Linked DNA regions of Homo sapiens: region 1 is reported to be linked to region 2. The links are microRNA targets in miRTarBase. Many come from high-throughput screens and were not tested one by one. Region 2 holds a microRNA gene; the other region holds the end of a gene's coding sequence.

Region 1 (5,391 bases), not on the chromosome of region 2:
ATATTTTAAACGATATATACAATATAGAACAATATTCATCATCTTCTGGAGAGCACATATAAAGTTTCTGGCTTAAATAATTTCCCCAGCTGTATCGACATAGGCTACATGAGTAAAATAGTGAAATATATTTAAGCCTATTACTAGACATATATGCTTTTATAGAATAGGTAAACTTTGTGGCAGTTACCAGATTAACAAAACATATTTGTCATTGGCATTACTATTGTATTTAAAGAATTTAAATTGTAAACAATTCTATTTTAACAGATATTAGGGTATAATGACATAATGTTAAGACATTTGAAAATGTTTCTATATTTGGGTCCAGCTCAAAAAAACTAATTTTCTCATAGTCTTCATTTTTTTATTAGCTTTGCCTAAATATTATGTTTTTTTTTATTGCAGTGATTCTCTTTCTGAAAGTTTAAAAATACTTTGCAAATTTATAATCTCATCTTCTCTTTCCTCAACTCTCACTGTGCAGGGCCCTGTGTTTTTCCTTGAAGACGGGAAATCTGCTATCTCCTTGAATGATGCTTTGATGTGGGCAAAGGTGAATCCATTCTCACCTTTAGGGACTGGAATACGACTCAATCCATTCTGATAGAAGATTTTTGTCCATGCTTGATTTTTTTTTTTAAAGAAAAACTTTCATGGGTTAGCATTACCTTAATCTTTGTTGCTCAAGTGCCAGAGGTTGGGAGAAGGATTGCAGGTTGGGAGAGGTGGGAAATAGCAGTGAATTTTAGTCATTAACTTCAAAATATATATATATATATAATTTAAAGGAAAAATAGGTGCCTCCTTTATAAACAGTAATAGCTACGTTTGGGAAGGAGGAAACATTTAAATTATAAAGGACTGAATAATCTAAAAAGCATATAAAAGTTTCACACAGCATAAAAGATACCAAAATATCATATGGTTGAAATATTGAAACATATTAAATTGTGCAACACCTAGAATAGTGCTAGACATACAGTAAGTACTTAATGGATATTTGAATGATTGAATATCTTGAAATGTTGAAATGTAAGGTGTGCACAGTGATCTTCAACTTAACAAACACTTACGTTCTCCTTTATAAAATGCATAGTAAACCACTAACGTTAGCTGTTTTAATAAAAGTTTTCAGTTATAAGTTTAGTAAATATTAATAAATGGATACACATTCAAAATACTTTTAAAAAAAAGAAAATGTTACCAGTTTTTTTATCTGAAGTTTAACTGTCCCATTGTAAAGGTGTAAGTTATATAGGCTTGAAAAAAATTGGCGGGTAAAAATCACAAAATGCAGTCGAATATATATATGAAAACTTGCATTAGGTGATAAAGTGACTATTTTAAGAGATTCAGCATGCATGGATATTAGTTTTGATTAATGTGTACAATAATTTACACAGTATACTCTAGTCAATTTATGTTAACTTTATTTAAAACACAATTTATTTGGCCGGGCACGGTGGCTCACACCTGTAATCTCAGCACTTTGGCAGGCCAAGGCAGGTGGATCACCTGAGGTCAGGAGTTCATGACCAGCCTGGCCAGCATGGTAAAACCCTGTCTCCACTAAAAATACAAAAATTAGCCAGGCATGGTGGCGGGCACCTGTAATCCCAGTTACTTGGGAAGCTGAGGCAGGAGAATCCCTTGAACCTGGGAGGCAGAGGTTCCAGTGAGCCAAGATCGCACCACTGCACTCCAGCCTGGGCAACAAAGAGCGAAACTCTGTCTCAAAAAACAAACCAACAAAAACCACAATTGATTTGATGAAAATTAGTTTTAAGTAAATGTTTGTAAATAGATATTGGTTGAATTTTTGGATATATTATGTTGATTTAACTTTTAAAATGTTGTTTAAAAGTGTGAAGCTATGAAAAGCCTGATAATGTGACTACAGATATTTCAGTTGGACTAGAATTCTGACTTTGAAACTTATTAAATTAATGCATACTGGAAGTACTTTGATACTCAAGTTGTTTCACAAGATTTATAATATAGATGGTTTTGTTTGACTAAAGAATAATCTCATATAACTAGAATACTTGTGGCTTTTATTATCTTTAAACTTGTTGCATTTAAAATATTTTTAAAACCTTCTTAACAAAACTTCTTAAAACTGGAAAAAATATATATTATGTATCTATGTATCATATTTATCACATGACCACTTTTGATTCCTTAAAAAGACATTACAGGCTTAAATTCCATTTTATTAAAAAAAAAAAATTGCCTGTAATCCCAGCACTTCAGGAGGCCGAGATGGGCAGATCTTGAGGTCGGTAGATGGAGACCATCCTGGCCAACATGGTGAAACCCTGTCTCTACTAAAAATACAAAAATTAGCTGGGTGTGGTGGTGTGTACCTGTAGTCCCAGCTACCCAGGAAGCTAAGGCAGGAGAATCGCTTGAATCCAGGAGGCGGAGGTTGCAGTGAGCTGAGATCGCACTACTGCACTCCAGCCTGGGCGACAGAGCAAGACCACCATCTCCAAAAATTATATATATAAAAATAATTAATATTATAGAAGAGAATATACACAACTCAGAGATGCAATGGATAATATAAAAAGAGTACCTGAGATGTATTTTTTTAAACTCTTAGAGATATCTGTAACTCAAATTTTTCTTAGGTGAGGAGGATTATTAACTGGCACATATGTACTAAAAACCCCTCACTTAAAAATGGCAGTCTCAATCCTACTGTCATTCTTTTTATTTTAAAATAAATAAATAAGCCTATCTTTTTGTGCTTACATACTTAAAAGGATATCATTAAGTATATAAACAATCATTACTTCTGTATTTTTAATGAATGCAGGAAAATAATATTTTTATGTATAAAAGATGAAGAAAAAATTTTGCAAGTCTTTAAGCACATAAATACAACAGAATAGCCACCCAATTTCTGTCTGAAATCTAAATTGGATGGATTTGACCATCATTCTATTATCTTTGATTTCTACAATGTCTATATCTTATTACCTATAACTATTAATTTTTCATAGAATTATAAATGTCATTTGACTATGTCAATCTGTATATATTGTACCTTAATATGAAAAACAAATTTTTTAATTCATAAAAGTATTTTTATTAGATTTCATATGCATGAAACCCAAGCAAATTATATGAATTTATTTTACTATTTGAAAATGTTCATATTACCAATAATGTGGACAAATTACTTTGCAGGTTTAAATATGCCTCTGTAAAGGAAGAGTCTCATTAGACAATGATTTTTAAAGCATTGGAAAAATATTTTGCCTGTAAAAGTTAGTAACTAGGTGGTTCACAAAATTACAACATCAAAATAGTTACATCTTGTGAAAATATATGATTTTTATGTCAATCAAGACAAATGAAATATATATGTATGTGTATATATATACATGTATGTATGAAATATATATATGTGCGTGTGTGTGTGTATATATATATATATATATATATATTTCTATGAAATTGTCCAGATGTGTTCAGGAACATGATTGCATTAGAGCAATGACTGTATTTTGTTGTCCTTATAACATTTATATTATTTCAGTTTTAAGTCAAAAGGTATTCTGAATATAATAAAAGCCTCACAAATTATTTGTAAAATTTAGTAGTTCATATTTAGTATATCAGTAATATAGAAGACATCTTTATAGTCAACTCTTAATTAATGCTTATTGTACCAAATCTTTGAGATATTTGTACATAAATGAAATATGTACTTTCATGCTAAAATTATATATCATGACTGTGCTATAATTTGGCATGTCATTATCTAGATTTATATGTATGTACGTATTTCAGGTCCTTGAAATTTTAATAAATATTACAGTTAAATCCTGATATGACATAGTTACCGGCTAAGATGAGTAGTTGTTTCTTTCCCGAGACACCATTGAAAGACAAGTGTTTCTCCATAAATGCTTGGATCAGAGTCATCAGAGGTGTGAAAGGGCTAAGCTGTCCAACTGAGTTGTTACCCTACTCAGTAACCTAGGAAAATCACTTCATTGAATTGTTCCAGAGGCTGATTCTTCACTATAGAAACACTGACTACAGTATACCCCAAAATTACTATAAAAATGGAGAAAGTGCTTACTCATTAATACAAATGCTATGTCATAGTAGCTTCTATTCCCATAAGCTACTCGGGAGGCTGAGGCAGGAGAATAGCGTGAACCCGGGAGGCGGAGCTTGCAGTGAGCTGAGATTGCGCCACTGCACTCCAGCCTGGGCAACAGAGCAAGACTAGGTCTCAAAAACCAAAAATAAAAACAAAACAAAACAAAAAAGAAAATGTTTTATTCCTATAGCAGCTGCTATAGCTCCTAGAAAATTTCATTGCTTCCTTCTGTCAAAGATTCTTTTTGAAGTAAATGGTCTAAGATATGCCTGTAGTGTTGGCTTCTGTTGCACAATTCATCCTCAAGAAACTCTTGAGGTTACCCACTTTGACCATCCTGTATCTTCATTTACATAATCACTATGTAATGAAGCCTACAGACTATTTCCTATTTTCCAGTCTCTATAGGTCCCTCAGGATTCTTGGGAACTTACCATAGTCGGGCCATGAGTGATGAGCTCTTTCAGGAGATTGAACACAGCACCAGGAGGACAAAGAAACTTATTATTTGACTCTACCCAAAATTAATCCTCTTCTCTGGATCTTTTTCATGGCTGAGCTTCAGAGACTTGTTTCTCAAACCTTTTCCAAAGGAACTATATAGGTTAAAAGTTATTCTCATAATTTTGTACTTTAGATTGTCCCATGAGAGTGCAAGACAACAGATACATTACTTATAGCTGATTAAGATATGCATTTGACCTAGATCTCTTACCTCAGATAAAACTGGATTTTGAACACATTCCCAGTAAGTTATCTGTATCATCCGGGCTTTCTTAGTCTTCTTCAATATTATCTCTCTAAAAATGCAAAATTTAACAAGGAAGTCTCTGGAGGTAGAATTGCTAATAAAACAGTCTGAACTTTCAAAAATGCAGAAAATCTGGTAAGTTTAACTGAAAATTGACATTAGTAATATTCATCTTGGGAGTCAAATGAGACTATTAATGAGCCAGTATCAAACATAAATAATACCAGTTGAAAATTTTCCACATATAAAACATAAAATTACCATGTATATATAAAAGATTATTAATTTTTCAGGACATCAGTCTGCTTTTGTTTCCCTTCAGTTAAAATATGGGGCATAGCAGCAACCAGTGGGAACTTTTAAATTGAACTAAATGTATTGCTAAACACCGAATCAAATTCCAAGAAAAGGATGATTTTCTTTCCCCACAACTTGTTTTCAATAGAAGGGACACCTGTTTTTTTTTAATGGTTTAAGTTCAGGCTGTTCTTAGAGATGATCAAGATGTTCTATGGGC
Region 2 (5,367 bases):
GCCACCTCAGTTGGTATTACTTGAGTCTGCTCTGAGACTGTGACAGCAGGCTCTGAAACTGTCACAGTCGATTCCTGGACAGAAACAGATGGTTCTGAAACAATCATAGAAGGTTGAAGGACTGACACCGCTGGTTCCAGAACAGGCACAGAAGGCTCCAGCGCAGAAACAACTGGCACAGGAATGGTAACATAGTCTGGCTCAGCCACAACAGGAGGCTCCGGGACAGTCACAACCGAAGGCTCCAGGACAGTTACAGTCGAAGACTCCAGGACAGTCACAGTCGAAGACTCCAGGACGGTCACAGCCGAAGACTCCAGGACAGCCATAGCTGAAGACTCTGGGGCAGCCATGGCTGGCGGCTCCAGAATGCTCTCTGCCAGCACTGGAGTAGTTACTGCTGGAACCAACAAGGATGTAGATACTTCTGAGGCAACATGTCCTGAGGCTCTCATGGAATCAAATGTTTCTGCTGTCTCTGACATAACAGGAGGCTCTGATGCTAACACAGTTGGTTCAGCTGACATGGCGGGAGTTTCAGATACCATACAAGTCACTGGTCTCTCTGGAACAACTTCATGTTCTTCTGCTACTACTGCAGACTCTACAGGTGTTAACGTAATTGAAGATTCTGGCTCTGGTGGTGGTTCTGGAACAGTCACAGCAGCCTCTGATACTAAAACTGAGGGATCTGATGCTGACACTGAATAATCAGTAGGCACTGCTGAAGGCTCCGAAATCTCACTTTGACTCACAGGAGGCTCAGGCTGCGATACAGACTCTTCAGATGGTGATGATGGCACCTCTGTAGGCCAAGTATTTTCAGCTGTTAATGCTGACTGCTCAGTGGGCAATGCTGGACCCTCTGGTGGTTCCTCAGGAGGCAATGGTGGTGTCATTGGTGGCTCCTCAGGTGGCAACGGTGGCATTGTTGGGGGCTCTTCAGGAGGCAAAGGTGGCACCATATATGCCTCTGTATATGTGTCAGTGTAAGAATCGGTGTAAGAATCAGCAGCCATAGACATCATTGAACGATCAGCAGTATAAGATGACATCATAGATCGGTCAGCTGCAGAGTACGATGACATCATAGACCGGTCAGCAGCAGAGTATGACGACATCATAGACCGGTCAGCACCCATGGACATCATAGATCGATCAGCCATTGGGGACATCATGGAGCGTTCATAAGCTGACATCATGGAGCGTTCATAAGCTGACATCATAGAGCGCTCAGCCATAGGGGACATCATAGAGCGCTCGTAGGCTGACATCATAGAGCGCTCGTAGGCTGACATCATAGAGCGTTCAGCCATAGGGGACATCATAGACCGCTCATAAGACATCATAGAGCGTTCGTAAGATGACATCATGGAACGTTCTGCAGCATAGGACATCATCATAGAACGTCTAGATGCTAACATCAGGGGTCTAGGTGCTAACCTATATGGCCTGGGTGCTATTCTATAGGACCTGGGTGCTATCCTGTAGGGTCTAGGTGACATCCTATAGGGATCAGGAGTTAGTCTGTAGGGATCATGGCCTAATCTATAAGGGTCTTGTCCTAACCTGTAAGCATCATGACCTAATCTATAGGGGTCATGGCCCAACCTATAGGGATCCTGAGCTAACCTGTAAGGATCCTGAGCTAACCTATAGGGATCAGGAGATTTTGAACCCAACATAGCAGAATCTTGGGTACTAGACGCTAACATCTGGGCATCCATGGTACCAGACGCTAACATCTGAGCATCCATGGTGCCAGAAGCTAACATTTGAGAGTCCATAGTGCCAGATGCTAACATCTGGGAATCCATTGAGCTAGTTGCTAACATCTGGGAGTCCATGGTGCTGGTTGCTAACATCTGAGAATCCATGGTGCTGGTTGCTAACATCTGGGAGTCCATGGAGCTGGTTGCTAACATCTGGGAGTCCATGGAGCTGGTTGCTAACATCTGGGAGTCCATGGAGCTGGTTGCTAACATCTGGGAGTCCATGGAACTGGTTGCTAACATCTGGGAGTCCATAGTGCTAGTTGCTAACATCTGGGAGTCCATGGAGCTAGTTGCTAACATCTGGGAGTCCATGGAGCTAGTTGCTAACATCTGGGAGTCCATGGTGCTAGACGCTAACATCTGGGAGTCCATGGTGTTGGATGCTAGCATCTGGGAGTCCATGGTGTTGGACGCTAGCATTTGGGAGTCCATGGTGTTGGATGCTAATATATGGGTCTCCATGGTGTTAGAAGCTAATATATGGGATTCTGGGGCCATCAAGGGATCCACTCCTACTGTTACAGAAGTCTCCCCCACTAATGTAGTAGGCAGCTCCTGTGCTACCGTATTATAGGATTCCAGCGCTGTCGTCGAGGGCACCTCCAGGGACTGCGACACGGTCATCGTTGACAGCTCCGATGTTGTCACCACAGACTGAACAGAGATCTCCAGCGCCACAGTTGCCACAGGCTGCCCAGGCAACTCTGGCGCCCCAGGCTGCCCTGGCAACTCCAGCACCCCTGTTGCCAGAGGCTGCCCCAAAAGCTCCAGTGCTCCAGCTGCCCCAGACTGCCCCGAGAACTCCAGTGCCCCAGCTGCCATGAGCGGCCCAGGCAACTCTAGTGCCCCAGTTGCCACAGGCTGCCCCGACAACTCCAGTGCCCTAGTTGCCGAAGGCAGCCCTGGCAACTCTGGCACCCCAGTCACCGAAGGCTGCCCCGGCAACTCCAGCGCTGTCGTTGCCACTGGCTGTCCTGGCAACTCCAGCACCATCGTTGCCTCAGGCTGCCCCAGCAACCCTGTTGCCGTTGTCACCTCAGGATGCCCAGGATGTTCCACCGTTGTCATCCCCACAGGCTGCTCCAACTCTGTCGTCGTCACAGGTTGTTCGGTCAACTCCATTGCTACTGTTACCGCAGGCTGCTCTGGCAACTCTACTGCTGCTGTCACCAAAGGCAGCCCTGGCAACTCCTGTGCCATCACAGGTGGCTCTGGTACCTCCTGTGGTGGCTCCAACCCCATGGATGGTGCTGGAAGCCCTGGCAATTCCTGCGACAACTGTGGCACTGGTGTCACAGAGGGCCCTGGCAACTCAGGCACTGCTGTCGCAGGGGGCCCTGGCAACTCAGGCACTGGGGTAGAAAGGGGCCCTGGCAACTCTGGCACCGGGGTAGCAGAGGGCCCAGGTAACTCCAGCACTGGAGTCACAGGGGGCCCCTGCAACTCCGGCATGGAGGTCGCAGGTGGCCCCGGCAACTCCATCGCTGAGGCCACCGACGACTCCTGCAGCTCCAACGCTGTGGTCTTAGGCAGCTCCGGCAACTCCTGCGGTCTTGTCATGGATGAATCTGCAATCTCCGATGGTACGTCTACAGGCTGCTCTGGCAATCTTAGCGCTTCAATTGCAGATGACTCTGGAAAATCCATTGTTGTTGATGTGCTTGGCTCAGGGTACACCTCAGTAGGTGTCTCTGATGATACCACAAGGGTTTCTGAAGGCTCTAACACTTTTGCTACTGGGGGCTCTACCAACATGATCTTTGATGGCTCTGGAGATGTGCTCTCCACAGATTTCAGCACAGACTTCATCTGATACTCCACTGACATTGTTACAACTGGCTCAGATGACTTCAACACCAGTGTTGTAGTAGGCACTGGTGCTGCTGCAAAGGAATCCAGAATCTTTGTCATGGATGGTTCTGGCATTACTGCCACAGACTGCTCTGACTGCTCTGAGATTACTGATGTAGATACAACTGACAGTTCTGCAGTTTTTGTAGCTGGCTTCAGAGTTTCTAAGATGTGTGGCTCTGATACCTCCATTGATACTACAGGAGGTTCTAGCACAACTGCAGGGGATTCATTGGTCTCAGATGGGCCAAATGCTCTTGTAGGAAGCTCCAGCGCCACAGCTGAAGGTTCAGAATCAAACTTTAAAAAGGAATCAGATTCTAAATCTATGTTCCCATCATCATGAGATTTCGTCTTTGACTCAGATTCTTCTGGCTGTCTTTTATATTTTTTTTCCTTTTCTTTCTTCTTTTTCTTCTTTTTGTTTTTGTGCTTTTTATGCTTCTTTGACTTTTTAGTGGGAATTTCATCAGTAGGATCTGTTTGTACAGATACGCATCTACTTTTTCTGGAGCCCTCTTTCAAGTCTAAAAGTAATAGAAATTAATTTTGTCAGACATTCCCCAAAGTAGAGTTAGATTAAATCATATAAACCCATATTTACATTCCATGTTAAAACACCTTAGTACAGGCCAAGTACAGTGGCTCACGCCTGTAATCTTAGCACTCTGAGAGGCCAAGGCAGGTGGATCATGAGGTCAGGAGTTCAAAACCAGCCTGGCCAGCATGGTGAAACCCCATCTCTACTAAAAATACAAAAATTAGCCAGGCATGGTGACGCGCACCTGTAGTCCCAGCTATTTGGGAGGCTGAGGCGGATCACTTGAACCCAGTAGGTCGAGGTTTCAGTGAGCTGAAATTGCACCACTGTACTCCAGCCTAGGCAACAGAGCAAGACTCTGTCTCAAAAAAAAAAAAAAACCCCACAGTATAACACCTCACGTTAAATTAAAAGTTACCAAATAAACTATTTTTCATAAAACAGTTAACCTGGAGACTACTACTTTTCTGATAATTCTTTCCACAACTAATGCCTGGGTTAAAAATAAATTATTAAACACCAAAACTTACTTTGAATTACATTAAGACATGTTTCACTAAATTCTATTAAAATAATTATTCCCTCCAGCTCTCAAATCATAGCAAAATTACTTTTAAACTACTTTTGTCACTGAATATATTTCATGTTATTAGTTGCTACAGTTTCTATTAAAAATACCCACATAATATAATTTTTGCGATTATTAACCCTTGTTTATACAGGAAGCAACATGGCACTGGCTCTGGAACAGACTGCCACTTTTGAATCCTCAATCAGTTCATCACTTACTAGGTTAATGGTCTTGGCCAAATTACTGACACACTTGTGTCTTCTAGAGTTAGAGGATAAAGTGAGTTAAAACATGCAAAGTACATCAAATAATGCCTGGCACAGAATAAGCTTTCAACAAAGGTTAGTGATTGCTTCTACAGAGTATAAAAATATCTGAATAACAAATATAAAATATTCATAGAGAACTCAAATTTTACCTTATCATGCCTACGTTACATTCTAATAAAAATAATATTTTCCCCCAATACTATTCTGAAACCACTAAAATAACTTTTTAAATGTTTCTGTTTTAGAAAAGGATACTGATTTTAGAGAGGAAATTCTTAGTCCTTATAACTTAAGAAAGTTTGAATTTACATACCCTAAAGAGATAACATTTTCCCCCAATACTATTCTAAAACCACTAAT

Evidence for each region. Region 2 holds the annotated microRNA hsa-miR-6501-5p (AGUUGCCAGGGCUGCCUUUGGU, at 2,944-2,965, opposite strand). A microRNA usually pairs through its seed, bases 2 to 8, with sites in the 3' UTR of a target mRNA and lowers its output. Matches are read on the target gene's strand: a 7mer-m8 pairs with bases 2 to 8, a 7mer-A1 pairs with bases 2 to 7 and ends in A, and an 8mer does both.
Region 1: miRTarBase lists WDR17 as a target of hsa-miR-6501-5p. Seed matches in the 3' UTR shown: 7mer-A1 at 1,713-1,719.

What each region holds. Positions count from the first base shown.
Region 1 is chr4:176,178,973-176,184,363 of GRCh38, forward strand. WDR17 (WD repeat domain 17) reads left to right here. Exons shown (of 29, transcript NM_181265.4): 29 at 488-3,843. The coding sequence ends at 607. Among named protein-coding and RNA genes, the nearest start is that of SPATA4, 14 kb to the right of the region's middle.
Region 2 is chr21:33,548,262-33,553,628 of GRCh38, reverse strand. It overlaps MIR6501 (microRNA 6501), which reads right to left and starts at 2,967; the gene lies at 2,901-2,967. It overlaps SON (SON DNA and RNA binding protein), which reads right to left. Exons shown (of 12, transcript NM_138927.4): 3 at 1-4,153.